Linked DNA regions of Homo sapiens. The protein of the gene in region 1 interacts with the protein of each later gene in a pairwise test. Each region holds a gene or a part of one and is shown on either strand. Other genes may lie near its edges.

What was found. Proteins that work in one complex are often made in the same cells at the same time.
Region 2: the proteins of NEBL (region 1) and HOMER3 interact in binary tests that used the Homo sapiens proteins (3 or more experiments, as listed by UniProt).
Region 3: the proteins of NEBL (region 1) and KIF1B interact in binary tests that used the Homo sapiens proteins (3 or more experiments, as listed by UniProt).
Region 4: the proteins of NEBL (region 1) and ZGPAT interact in binary tests that used the Homo sapiens proteins (3 or more experiments, as listed by UniProt).

The regions. Positions count from the first base shown.
Region 1 is NC_000010.11:20,779,473-20,782,311, reverse strand, and holds the end of NEBL (nebulette), read left to right. Parts: 3' UTR 1-2,339; downstream 2,340-2,839. UniProt on the Homo sapiens protein: Binds to actin and plays an important role in the assembly of the Z-disk. May functionally link sarcomeric actin to the desmin intermediate filaments in the heart muscle sarcomeres.
Region 2 is NC_000019.10:18,931,218-18,934,717, forward strand, and holds part of HOMER3 (homer protein homolog 3), read right to left. Parts: intron 3,194-3,500; coding exon 3,086-3,193; intron 1,829-3,085; coding exon 1,707-1,828; intron 916-1,706; coding exon 759-915; intron 409-758; coding exon 292-408; intron 195-291; coding exon 108-194; intron 1-107. UniProt on the Homo sapiens protein: Postsynaptic density scaffolding protein. Binds and cross-links cytoplasmic regions of GRM1, GRM5, ITPR1, DNM3, RYR1, RYR2, SHANK1 and SHANK3.
Region 3 is NC_000001.11:10,364,070-10,367,569, reverse strand, and holds part of KIF1B (kinesin-like protein KIF1B), read right to left. Parts: intron 2,471-3,500; coding exon 2,325-2,470; intron 2,162-2,324; coding exon 1,922-2,161; intron 1-1,921. UniProt on the Homo sapiens protein: Has a plus-end-directed microtubule motor activity and functions as a motor for transport of vesicles and organelles along microtubules.
Region 4 is NC_000020.11:63,714,539-63,718,038, forward strand, and holds part of ZGPAT (zinc finger CCCH-type with G patch domain-containing protein), read left to right. Parts: intron 1-3,500. UniProt on the Homo sapiens protein: Transcription repressor that specifically binds the 5'-GGAG[GA]A[GA]A-3' consensus sequence. Represses transcription by recruiting the chromatin multiprotein complex NuRD to target promoters.

The sequences.
Region 1 (2,839 bases):
TATATACAAATATAGGTGCCTTTTTGATTACTCTTGTTTGTCTAGTATGCTCTTGGAAAGAAAACCAAGCAAGCAAGTTGCTGCCTATTCTATAGTAATATTTTATTACACATGATTGATATTTTTGTGGTAGGGAAGTGGGATGCTCCTCAGATATTAAAGGTGTTAGCTGATTGTATTTTATCTCTAAAGATTTAGAACTTTAGAAAATGCCGACTTCTTCCATCTATTTCTGAAAGGTTCTTTGTGGATTTATATAGAGTTGAGCTATATAAACATTAACTTTAGATTTGGGATTTAAAATGCCTATTGTAAGATAGAATAATTGTGAGGCTGGATTCACTACACAAGATGAACTTCACTTCATAAATTAATTATACCTTAGCGATTTGCTTCTGATAATCTAAAAGTGGCTAGATTGTGGTTGTTTTGGTTAAGGTGATATGGAGGTGGGAGAGCTTTTAGTTAAGTAAGAAGCTATGTAAACTGACAAGGATGCTAAAATAAAAGTCTCTGAAGTATTCCATGCCTTTTGGACCCTTTCCTCGCAACTAACTGTCAACTGTTGATCAAAAAAGTCAAGGCATTGTATGTTGCTTCTGTGGTTATTATTCTGTGATGCTTAGACTACTTGAACCCATAAACTTGGAAGAATCTTTGAGCAAATTTTCTCAGTTGTCTGTATGACTTCAGTATATTCCTGGGAATGCCATAGGATTTTTTGTGCTTGATACATGGTATCCAGTTTGCATAGTATCACTTCTTTGTAATCCAGTTGCTGTTAAGAATGATGTACTTTAAAGGAAAAGAGAAAACTGCATCACAGTCCCATTCTCCAGTGTCCATGCAATGAATTGCTGAGCATTTAGGAAGCAGCACCAAGTCTATTACAGGCATGGTGTGAAACTTGATGTTTGACCTGTGATCAAAATTGAACCATTGTACAGTTTGGCTTCTGTTTGCTTCAAAATATGTAGAATTGTGGTTGATGATTAATTTGCGAGACTAACTTTGAGAGTGTAACAGTTTTGAAGAAAACATTGAATGTTTTGCAAATGAAGGGGCTTCACGGAATGTTACAATGTTACTAATATAATTTGGCTTTTGTTATGCAAATTGTTAACACCAGCTATTAAAATATATTTTAGTAGAAATGCTTTAATTCATATTTTTTTCCTCTACACTGTGAATCTTTAAGCCTTGGTGGACTAGAGCAACATCGTGCTGCCCAAAGGACTAACCTATGCAAACTAGTTCACATTTTAGTGGATGTCGCAGTTAATGTGTAATAAGACATTATTTCCCCTGCATAATGTACAACAGCATTGAAATGACACATTAAGCCTAGCATCACATTGTATAGTACAGTCACTCACAAACCCTTCAAGGCTACCCTAATCATTAACATTAATATTTGTTTAAAAGCAAATCACCGATTTATCTATTGAAACTACTTAAATGACGGCAAACCAGGAATGACAGATGGCTGTGTCAGCAATGGCTTTAATGTGTTCCCTGCAAGTGGTCTCCTATGATAGAACTGCGTTCTCAAATGCACTCTCTTCAGGGTCTTAATATTCTGTGTTTTCTCTCTGTATTTGTAAAACATTATAACACATTAATTTCCTATCTCTACACATTTGGTTTGCTTAAATAAATGCAGGATATAAAAAAAATGGTTCACTTCTTGGCTCTCACCGTGGTTTCTTGGAGCATGGGTTGTTAGATGCAAGCAATGCACCCTAATAATACCCCGGGTCTGAGATTTAACATGACAACTCACATCAAATCGCATCAGAGGTGTGTGCTGCCTTCAGTGCATTTACATTGGTGAATCAGTCAAGATATTTTCCTCCCCCAAATAAACTTAGTTGTAAGTGATAACAATATTATGCTTCTCCAAGCTCAGTATCTTTCTGATTTTATATCAAAGTACCGCAACAATGCATCATTGTAGTTAATTTATTTCAAGAATAAATTCCTCATATGTCCTCAATAGTACAATTCTAATTTTCTTCTATTCATAAGATGAAAGAAATGGTTTGGAGCATAGAATAGAAAGTGCACAAATTGAGTACATAAAATGGGAAGCAACTGATTTCTCAGCTAAGAAAGGCTCATTTATCACAGAACACAATTGCTTTTCTCCCCCCACTACGCTTCCCATAATTGAAAAAGTGAGTCCCTATTTTTCACACTCATATAAATCTATGCGATTTGGATGCTAGTCTTATTGTATTATTTTGTAAAACTTTCTCTTTGGCTCATAATCCTTCCTAATTGTAAATTGATAAACTTTGCGGATGACATCTGCTCGTAGAATAAACACTTCTTCCAAATATTGGATTTTCTGTTTTTCATATTCCGTAAGTATGAAATGAATATTTTAATAGTATTATGAATCAAGCACACTGTATTTGAAATCACAAGACAGCACAGTTATTTATTTGAAGAATTCACTACCTTTTTTCCCTCTGAGACTTTTTTTTTTTCCATTCGATTATAAATTTACTCTTTGTAACCCAGGCCACAGAGGAAATGAATACCTTAGATTTTTTTTTTTCTGACAAAAAATAATTTAGCTTTTAAACAGACTGTGCTTATAATTTTATTTTCTTAAACATTTGTGAGGTTTTACGGGTAACTATGACATGCGCACCAAACAACTTTTCTACCAAAATAAGTTTCTACAAAAATATATAATAAACTAAAAAGTAGGTAAAAGGGGATTTTTTTTTTTCTTCATATAATCTGCTTTGATATGGTTTGGCTGTGTTCCCACCCAAAATCTCATCTTGAATTGTAATCCCTATAATCTCCATAATCCACACGTGTCAAA
Region 2 (3,500 bases), on another chromosome or scaffold:
AGGACTGGGCCTCCCAATACTTTATCATCTTAGGTAGATATTGTCCTGAGTGTCTGTTGAGGTGACTGTCACCCACCGTCACCCCACCTCCTTGTGCCCACACACACCTGCACCTTCTGCTGAGTCTCCTCACGCTCGGCAGCCTCCAGGGCCTCGCGGGGCCCCCCAGTCTGACTCTTCAGGGTCTGAATCTCCTAGAGGAGAAGAGTTCCCAGGGTCTGTTGCGGGGGTCCTGGCTTTCCCACAGGAGGTGAGGGAAGGCGAGGCCCAGGAACCACACTTGGCACTCACCTGGTCCTTGGTTTGCACCAGAGCTTCCAGCTGTTCCAGCGACTGGCCCTGGCCCAGCCCCTCCTTCTCACCGGTGGGGGTCACCTCTGAAGCTGCCTGAGCCTCCAGCTCAGCCACCTGTAGGGCAGGAATAGCAGCCCCTGACGCCCCCGCCTGCACTCTCCCTTGCTCGCCCAACCTCTAGGGAATCTGCCTCCTGTCTGGCCACGCCCAGGACCGAGCACCCATCTCCCTTGGTTGGTGCCACCACCCCCCTCTGCACAGCTTGGACTTTAGTGTCTGATCACCCTCTGAGGCTGGCATTGTCTCAAACCCATTTTACAGAGCAAGAAACTGAGGCTGGGTCAGTGACCTGCTGAGGTCACACAGCTAGTCCATGAACCCAGGGCAGATGGGAACTGCCGAGGCGCGGTCTCCACAGTTGCCCGGGCCAGGTGGGGGTCTCTCGGAGGGAGGGGTGCCCTCACCCGCTGCCGCAGCCGCTCGGCCTCTGCACGCTGAGCCTCCAGCTGCTGCCTCCACTGGGCTGCGGCGGCGTTGGCCTCTCGCAGGGCGCCTGCCAGCTTGTTGTTGCTGTCCTGCAGTGCGAAAAACTCGGCCTCCCACTGTACCTCGCCCACGGAGCTGCAGAGACACGAGGGTCGGCAGTGGGTGACACGGGGCTGGGGGGCGGAGTCGGGCGATGCTGGGCTAGGGGGCGGGGCCAGGGGTGGGATAGCTCTGGGCTTAGGTCAGGGCGAAGGCTGGCGAGGGTGCGGAGTCGTGCGCGAAGTTGGACTAGGGGGCGGGGCAGGGGTGGAGTGGCACTGGGCTGGGGGCGGAGTCAGCGGCAATGCTCGGTTAGGGGGCGGGGCCAGGGTGGGTGGCGCTGGGCTGAGGCGGAGTCACGGGCGATGCTGGGCTAGGGGGCGGGGCCAGAGGAGGGGTGGCTTTGGGCTAGGGCACGGAGTCAGGGCCACGCAGGGCTGGGGATGTGGCGACACTGATTGCTGAGCTTGGGGATGGGGCAGTCCCGCAGAAGCGGGGTCTTGTCGAGGACCGAGTCAAAGAAGGGGGCACGTGGAGTCCGCCCAGTGACACTGTGGGAATGTTGAGGGAGGGATGGGAGGTTGGGGAGAGTCAGCCGATGGGGGCGTGGTCAGGGTGGTTATCCTAAGACCAGAGAGGCATCGACGGGGCGAGGTTAGCAGCGAGAAGAGACAGGGATGGGGTCAAAACAGAGGGGCGTGGCCAACGCAGGGTAGGGGCGGGGTCGGCTCTGGATGGGGCAGCATTCAGATCCTCATCCCCTTCCCCAGGTCTTGAGTCCACAGTTAGATCCCGCCGTCCTGGCACTCCCTTGGCTTCCAAGAACCGCCTCCTCGTCCCCCACCCCTACCCCCGCCCCTGCCACGCCCCCAAGTCCCGCCCCTCACCCCTCAGACAACATCTTCTTTAGCCGCTCGCGCTCTGTGGGGCCGGGGGCATCAGCGCTCTGGCTGCGGAACAGTTTTTCCTCGCCGGGGCCGTTGGCACTGACGAGAGGGCTCGGGGGCACCTAGGCACGGGGAAAAGAATAGGTCACGACCCCACATCAGCTGGGATCAAGGCTGATGTGACTGGGGTCGTCACATCGGGGGTGCAATTGACCTATGCACCCTAAGCAGGTCCTTCACAGCACAGGATCCAAGTGTGTCCCTCCCCACCTCACCCACCCTCCATGGCTCCCTGTGGCCCCTAAGCTGGGAGTTCCATGCCCACGCCCTCGACCTTGCCTTCCTGGGCTTTCACCACCCCCAGGAGCAAGTCTGATGCAGGTTAGTCTAAACCAAGATACTTAGAACCTGTAAGGTAGGGGAGGGGTACAATCGGACACCTCCCTGCTGTTCCCTTCCCTGAGGCCGAACTTCAACATCACGTTTAGGATTTCAGCAGGAAGCCCTGCCCAGGCCGAATTCGTGTTTCGTGAGCAACCCCACTGCCTGGACCACTGGCTCTGAGGGTAGACAAGCTGGCGGGTGCCCTGCGAGAGGCCAGCGCCACCGCAGCCCAGTGCAGGCAGCAGCTGGAGGCTCATGCTTTTTTTCATCTCTCCAACCCCTGTGCACAGCCCTCGGCCTGGTACACAGCAGGTGCTCAATAAATAATGCTGAATAAATTAATGTGGGAAAACACGCAGGGACAGTTCGTTGTTCTGCCTCACACTTAGCCATTTCTTTCTTTCTTTTTTTTTTTGAGACAGAGTCACACTCTGTCACCCAGGCTGGAGTGCAGTGGCACGATCTCGGCTCACTGCAACCTCCATCTCCTGGGTTCAAGCGATTCTCCTGCCTCAGCCTCCCGAGTAGCTGGGACTACAGGCGCATGCCACCACGCCTGGCTAATTTTTGTATTTTTTAGCAGAGGTGGAGTATCACCATGTTGGCCAGGCTGGTCTCGAACTCTTGGCCTCAAGTCATCCTCCCTCCTCAGCCTCCCAAATTGCTGGGATTACAGGCGTGAGCCACCGCACCCGGCCACACTTAGCCATTTCAATTTCTAGTCTTCCATCCTGCCATCTGAGCTGGTTTTGCTACTGGGACCTACTGGGTGTACCCCACCGGCCCCAGGCAAGGTCCAGACCCTCTATGACACACTCCACACCACTCCTCTGTGGTCCCTGCTGTGGGTCTAACCTTAGGTCATCTGGAAGCATTGGGTCTTGACGACCAGCAGAGTGCCCCGGTCTCCCAATATCAAGGTCCCCCAATATCAGTTGAGCGCCTGGCTGACTCACAGGTGCCCAGGCAGGCATAGGGGAGTAGGGAGTGCTGACCTGGTGGGAGGCGAGCCCCAGGGCTGGACTGGTGAGCTCCCCGCCATCCTGAGATTTCTCCCTGGCCAGCCTGGCTGCTTCCTTCACTTCCTGGAACTTCTCGGCAAACTAAGGGAGTGGGGAGGAAAAGACAGTAAAACCCCAGCCCATCCTCCCAAACAGGTCACCATCACTCAGTGACAGCCCCGCCACTTTCGAACCGTACCCATCCCCTTATCACACACCTTGGAAGAAGGAGAGAAACTTTGAAAAATGATGTACCATGGTGGGTGGGCAGGTGGCATCAGATCACAGAGGTGGCATTTAAATACATTGGGCCACATTGAGAAAGGGAAAGGAATTCCCATGTCCTCTTTTTAGGAAAGGGTCTCACTTTGTCACCCAGGCTGCAGTACAGTGGCATGATCTCGGCTCA
Region 3 (3,500 bases), on another chromosome or scaffold:
GAGCAAGACTCCATCTCAAAAAAAAAAAAAATTTAATAAAGATAAAAATAAAAAATAAAAACATCATAGTGATCTCTTGACCTCACAATCCGCCCACCTCAGCCTCCCAAAGTGCTGGGATTACAGGCGTGTGCCACCGCACCCAGCCACCTCTGCCTTCTTTAAAAAACTTTTATCTGGCTGGGCGTCCACACACCTGTAATCCTAGCACTTTGGGAGGCTGAGGCGGGTGGATCACCTGAGGTCAGGAGTTCAAGACCAGCCTGGCCAACATGGTGAAACTCTGTCTCTACTAAAAATACAAAAATTAGCCAGGTGTGGTGGCACATGCCTGTACTCCAAGCTACTTGGGAGGCTGAGGAAGGAGAATCGCTTGAACCTGGGAAGTGGAGGTTGCAGTGAGCCAAGATCATGCCACTGCATCCCAGCCTGTGTGACAGGAGTGAGACTCCATCTCAAAAAAAATAAAATTTTAAAAAGCTTTTATCATTTCTCATCAGATTACTGTAATAAAGATAAAGAATTCTCCCTTCCTCAGTGTATCTCTTCACCATCAATCCATTCTCTTTATTGCTGCCAGAGAAATATATATATTTTTTGAGATGGTGTCTCACTCTGTTGCCCAGGCTGGAGTGCAGTGGCGCGATCTCGGCTCACTGCAGCCTCCGCCACCTGGGTTCAAGCGATTCTCCTGCCTCAGCCTCCTTAGTAGCTGGGACTACAGGCGCACGCCACCACGTTCGGCTAATTTTTGTATTTTTAGTAGACACGGGGTTTCACCATGTTGGCCAGGATGGTCTCAATCTCCTGACCTTGTGATCCACCTGCCTCGGCCTCTCAAAGTGGTGGGATTACAGGCGTGAGCCACCGCCCCTCGCCAGAAATCTTTCTAAAACACAAATACCTGTTTAACATATTTCTGCCTTGCTCCCATCATCCACTCTAAACTCTTCAGTGCAGTATACAAGATTCTTCACTCCACACCTCCTGTTCCAGTCCCACGTGAATTCCCCAAGACTGATCATGCAGGACACCACTGCCTCCCTCCTGATCACGCAGGACACCGCTGCCTCCCTCCTGATCACGCAAGACACCGCTGCCTCCCTCCTGATCACGCAGGACACCACTGCCTCCCTCCTGATCACGCAGGTGTCGACACTGCTGCCTCCCTCCTGCGCATCCTTTCAAGGTCAGCTCATGAGCTCCCCACCATAGACACTTCTCCTCTGACTCCCATAGCATTTGAAACACACATCTCTATTATATGCTTGTGACCTAATATTCTGCAACCTTTATATTTTTTAATTTTTTAATTTTTTATTATTTTATTTTATTTTTTGAGATGGAGTGTCACTCTGTCGCTCAGGCTGGAGCACAGTGGAGCTATCTCGGCTCACTGCAATCTCCGCCTCCTGGGTTCAAGCAATTCTCCTGCCTCAGCCTCCTGAGTAGCTGGGATTACAGGCGCTCGCCACCACGCCTGGCTAATTTTTGTATTTTTAGTAGAGACAGGGTTTCACCATGTTGGCCAGGCTGGTCTCGAACTCCAGACCTCAGGTAATCCACCTGCCTCAGCCCTGCAAAGTGCTGGGATTACAGGTGTGAGCCACCATGCCTGGCCTAATTTTTGTTTTTGTAGAGACAAGGTCTCACTATGTTAGCCTGGGCTTGTCTTTAACTCCTGGGCTCAAGCAATCCCTTTGCTTCAGCCTCCCAAAGTGGTGGGATAATAGGCATCAGGCACTGTGCCTGGCCCTGTAAGCTTGTTGAGGGTAGGAACTGCGTCTTTTTATTTCTACATTCACAGTATTATCACAGGCCTTCAAACACCTCGAACAAAGGTGTTGAAAATGAATAAACCGAGAGGCTAGTTTGTGGAGCCTTGTGGGAAGACGTTCAGCAAAGAGGAAGGGATTCACACCTTGGTAGCCAGCTCTTTCTCTCGGTCCACCAGGCTTTCGATGTCTCCTGAATCATAGCCACTGCTCTCGCTAGGTGTGATGGCGCTTTCAAAGGTAGTGGTTGAGATCTGAGAGGAGATACTGGTGGAGGTGCTGAGGGTCCCACTGCTGAGGCTGGGGGATAACGAGTCGCTCAGGGATTTGGGGATGCTGTCACCAAGTCTCTCACGCAGCAGCAAAAAGTGGCGGGTTTTTTCCACCTGAGAAGATCAATACTACTGCTATAGCAAACACAAAGCTCGTTAAGACCTCAGGAGAGAAAAGTGAAAAGCTATGATCACATGCAGCAGCGGGGAGGAAGACTGATACTTTGGCAATCTTGTCCGAGAGTTCTTGCATCTGAACAACCCTGCCCCTGGATACCTCATGTAGGAGCTCCAGCTTCTCCAGCTCCCACTGGTGCTCAAGGATGAGGCTGTCTCCACGGGGCCGCCAGCCTGCTAAGTTCTCTTCTCCCCGCACATATGCCACTGACGTATCTAAGATTTTTCTTCTCCTTCTCTGCATACCTAAGACAAGAGGAAACAAGTTTTTGTTTCAGAAAAAAAATTCAATTCCAAGTTTAGGTCAAAACGAATTAATAATTCTTTTTTTTTTTTTTTTGAGATGGAGTCTCGCTCTGTTGCCCAGGCTGGAGTGCAGTGGCGTGATCTCAGCCCACTGCAAGCTCCGCCTCCTGGGTTCATGCCATTCTCCTGCCTCAGCCTCCCGAGTAGCTGAGACTACAGGTGCCCGCCACCATGCCCAGCTAATTTTTTGTATTTTTAGTAGAGACCGGGTTTCACTGTGTTAGCCAGGATGGTCTCGATCTCCTGACCTCGTGATCCACCTGCCTCAGCCTCCCAAAGTGCTGGAATTACAGGCGTGAGCCACCGCGCCTGGCCACGAATTAATAATTCTTATACGTAGCAAACTAAGACAGTTTGGTCTGAAGATATATGGGATTTTGTTTAAATAGCAAAGCAACTGAACGTTTTTAAAAACTGAGTTTTACATTCTTTGATAATTATGAAGACTGGGATGCAATTTAAGAAAATGATAAAATTATGATGTTAGGTGAAAATGCAGAAATATTAAATAGTCTGTAGTAGTCTATACACTATGGGGCCGGGCGTGATGGCTCACGCCTGTAATCCCAGCACTTTGGGAGGCTGAGGTGGGCTATCATCTGAGGTCAGGAGTTCGAGACCAGCCTGGCCAACATAGTGAAACCCCATCTCTACTAAAAATACAAAAATTAGCTGGGCATGGTGGTGGGTGCTTGCAAACCCAGCTACTCAGGAGGCTGAGGCAGGAGAATCACTTGAACCCAGGAGGCAGAGGTTGCAGTGAGCCAAGATGGCGCCACCACACTCCAGCCTGGGTGACACAGCGAGACTCTGTCTCAAAAAAAAAAAAAAAAAAAAAAGATCCTGTCCCTAAAAATAAAAATTTTTAAAAAGACGGAAGGGAATACACACACACATACACACACTCAGTAGCTCACTGGCTGACAGATGACAGAGAACTTTAGCCTCTATTATTTCCTGTTAATTTTTT
Region 4 (3,500 bases), on another chromosome or scaffold:
TGTTGAATATGATGTTACTTGTAGGTTTTCTGTAGATTCCCTTTATCGAGTTGAGGAAATTCTCTTATATTCATAGTGTGTTGAGTGTTTTTTATCATGAAAGGGTGTTGATTTTTTTTTTAAAGATAGGGTCTTGTTCTGTCACCCAGGCTGGAGGGCAGTGGCATGATCATGGCTCACTGCAACCTCGAATTCCTGGGCTCAGGGGATCCTCCTACTTCATCCTCCTGAGTAGGTGAGACTACAGGCATGAGCCACCATGCCCAGCTAATTTTTTAATTTTTCTGTAGAGGTAGGGTCCTGCTTTGCTGCCCAGGCTGGTCTTAAACTCCAGGGCTCAAGCAATCCTGCCTCAGCCTCCCAAAGTGCTGAGATTACAGGGGTGAGTCACTGCACTGCACCCAGCTGTGTGGGATTTTTCAAATGCTTTTTTCCTTTAGATGATCATGTGTGGTTTTTTTCCTTTCATTTTGTTAATGTGGTATATTGATTTTCGTATGTTGAACCATCCTTGAATTCCTCAGATAAAGCACGCATATTCATGGCGTATTATCTCTTTATTATTATTATTTTTGTAGAGATGAGATTTCACTCTGTTGCCCAAGCTGGTCTCAAACTCCTGGGCTAAAGTGATCCTCCTGCCTCAGCCTCCGAAAGCGCTGGGATTATAGGCATGAGCCACTTGGCCCTATCTTTTTTCTTTTTCTTTTTTTTTTTTTTTGAGACAGAGTCTCACTCTGTCGCCGGGCTGGAGTGAGTGGCGCGATCTCGGCTCACTGCAACCTCCATCTCCCGGGTTCAAGCAATTCTCCTGCCTCAGCCTCCTGAGTAGCTGGGACTACAGGTGCCCGCCACTATGCCCAGCTAATTTTTTGTGTTTTTAGTTGAGACGGTGTTTTGCCATGTTGGACAGGCTGGTCTTGCACTCCTGACCTCGTGATTCACCCACCTTGGCCTCCCGAAGTGCTGGGATTACAGGCGTGAGCCACCGCAGCGAGCCTTATCTTTTTAACAGTTAAAAGTTTAAGGCCTTATCATGTAATAACATTGCTGGATTTGATTTGCTGCTGTTTTGTTGAGAATATTTGCATCTGTATTGATAAGGGATATTGGTCTGTAGTTTTCTTTTCTTGGCATGTCTTTGTATAGCTTTGATGCCAGCATAATATTGGCCTCATAGAATGAGTTAGGAAGTATTCTTTATATTATGGGAAGAGGTAAAAAGGGATTGGTGTTAATTCTTCTTCAAATGTTTGATAGAATTCAACAGTGAAGTGATATATACAATCATATATAGAGAGAGAGAGAGAGAGAGAGAGATGGACTTTTCTTTTGTTGGAAGTTTATTGACTATTGATTCAATTTCCTTATTGAAATTGACTTTTCTTTTTGGAAGCTAAAACGTATAACTGTAGTGAAAGTTTCTGAACTTTTCTTTCATTGGAAGTTTTTTGACTACTGATTCTTTATTTGTTATAGGTCTATTCAGATTTTCTGTTTCTTCTTGAGTCAGTTTGGTCTCGCTCTGTCGCCCAGGCTGGAGTGCAGTGGTGCCATCTTGGCTCACTGCAACTTCTACCTCCCGAGTTCAAGTGATTCTCCCACCTCAGCCTCCCCAGTATCTCGGACTACAGGCGCACGCCAGCATACCTGGCTAATTTTTGTATTTTTAGTAGGAACAGCATTTCACCATGTTGGCCAGGCTGGTCTCGAACTCCTGACCTCAGGTGATCCACCCGCCTCGGCCTCACAAAGTGCTGGGACTACAGACATAAGCCACCGCGTCCAGCCTTGAGTCAGTTTAGATAGTTTGCATGCATGTTTCTAGGAATTTGTCCATTTTGTTTATGTTATCTAATCTGTTACCATACAATTGTTCATAGTATCCTTTTATAGCCCTAGTTATTTCTGTAAGATCAGTAGTAATAGCTCCACTTTCTCTCTTGGTTTTAGCAATTTGAGTCATCTCTTTTCTTCCTCTTTTTTTTTTTTTGAGATGGAGTCTCACTGTGTCACCCAGGCTGGAGTGCAGTGGCATGATCTTGGCTCACTGCAACCCCTGCCTCCCAGGTTCAAGCAATTCTGCCTTAGCCTCCTGAGTAGCTGGGATTACAGGTGTGAGCCACCACACCCAGCTAGTTTTGTTTTGTTTTTTTGTTTTTGAGACGGAGTCTGTTTCTGTCTCCCAGGCTGGAGTGCAGTGGTGCAATCTCACTCATTGCAACCTCCGACTCCCAGATTCCAGCAATTCTCCTGCCTCAGCCTCCTGAGTAGCTGGAACTATAGGCGTGCACCACCACGCCTGGCTGATTTTTATATTTTTAGTAGAGATGGGATTTCACCATGTTGGCCAGGCTGGTCTTGGACTCCCTACCTGAGGTGATCCGCCCACCTTGGCCTCCCAAAGTGCTGGGATTATAGGCATGAGCCACCATGCCCAGCCAGTTTTTGTATTTTTAGTAGAGATGGGGTTTCTCCCTGTCGGCCAGGCTGGTCTTGAAATCCTGACCTCAGGTTATCCACCAGCCTTGGCCTCCCAAAGTGCTAGGATTACAGGCATGAGCCACCACGCATGGCCTGTCTTTTCTTCTTGGTCATTTTCGCTAAAGGTTTGTCAATTTTGTTGATCTTTTTTGTTGCTGATCTCTATTGTTTTCCCATTCTGTTTCATTTATTTCCATTTTAACCTTTGTTTCCTTTTTTCTGCTGGTTTGGGTTTAATTTGCTCTTTTTTTCCCCTAATTTTTCAAGGTATACAGTTAAGTTATTGATTTGAGATCTCTTTTTTCTTTTCTTTTTTTTTTTTTTTTTTTTTTTTTGGTTGCTGTTGAGATGGAGTCTCCCTCTGTCACCCAGACTGGAGTGCAGTGGCATGATCTCAGCTCACTGCAGCCTCCGCCGCCCAGGCGATTCTCCTGCCTCAGCCTCCTGAGTAGACGTTTCCCGGCCAAGGTGTTTCTTTTTGAATGTAAGCATTTACAGCTACAGATTTCCCTCTAAACACTGCTTTCACTGCATTCCATAAGATTGTTTTTTGTTGTTGTTTTGTTGTTTGAGACACAGTCTCACTCTGTTGCCGTTTGGAGAGCAGCGATGCGATCATAGCTCTGTAGCCTTGAGCTCCTGGACTCAATCAGTCCTCCTGCCTCAGCCTCCCAAGTAGCTGGGACTACAGGTGTACACCACTGCACCTAACTAATTTCTTTTATAAGTTTTTGCAGAGGCCAGGCACAGTGGCTCACACCTGTAATCCCAGCACTTTGGGAGGCCAAGGTGGGTGGATCACCTAAGGTCAGGAGTTCGAGACCAGCCTGGCCGACAGGGAGAAACCCCATCTCTACTAAAAATACAAAAATTAGCTGGGCGTGGTGGCAGGTGCCTGTAATCCCAGCTACTCAGGAGGCTGAGGCAGGAGAATCGCTTGAACCTGGGAGGCAGAGGTTGCAGTGAGCCAGGATCACACCATTGCACTCCAGCCTGGGTAACAAAAGCAAAACTCC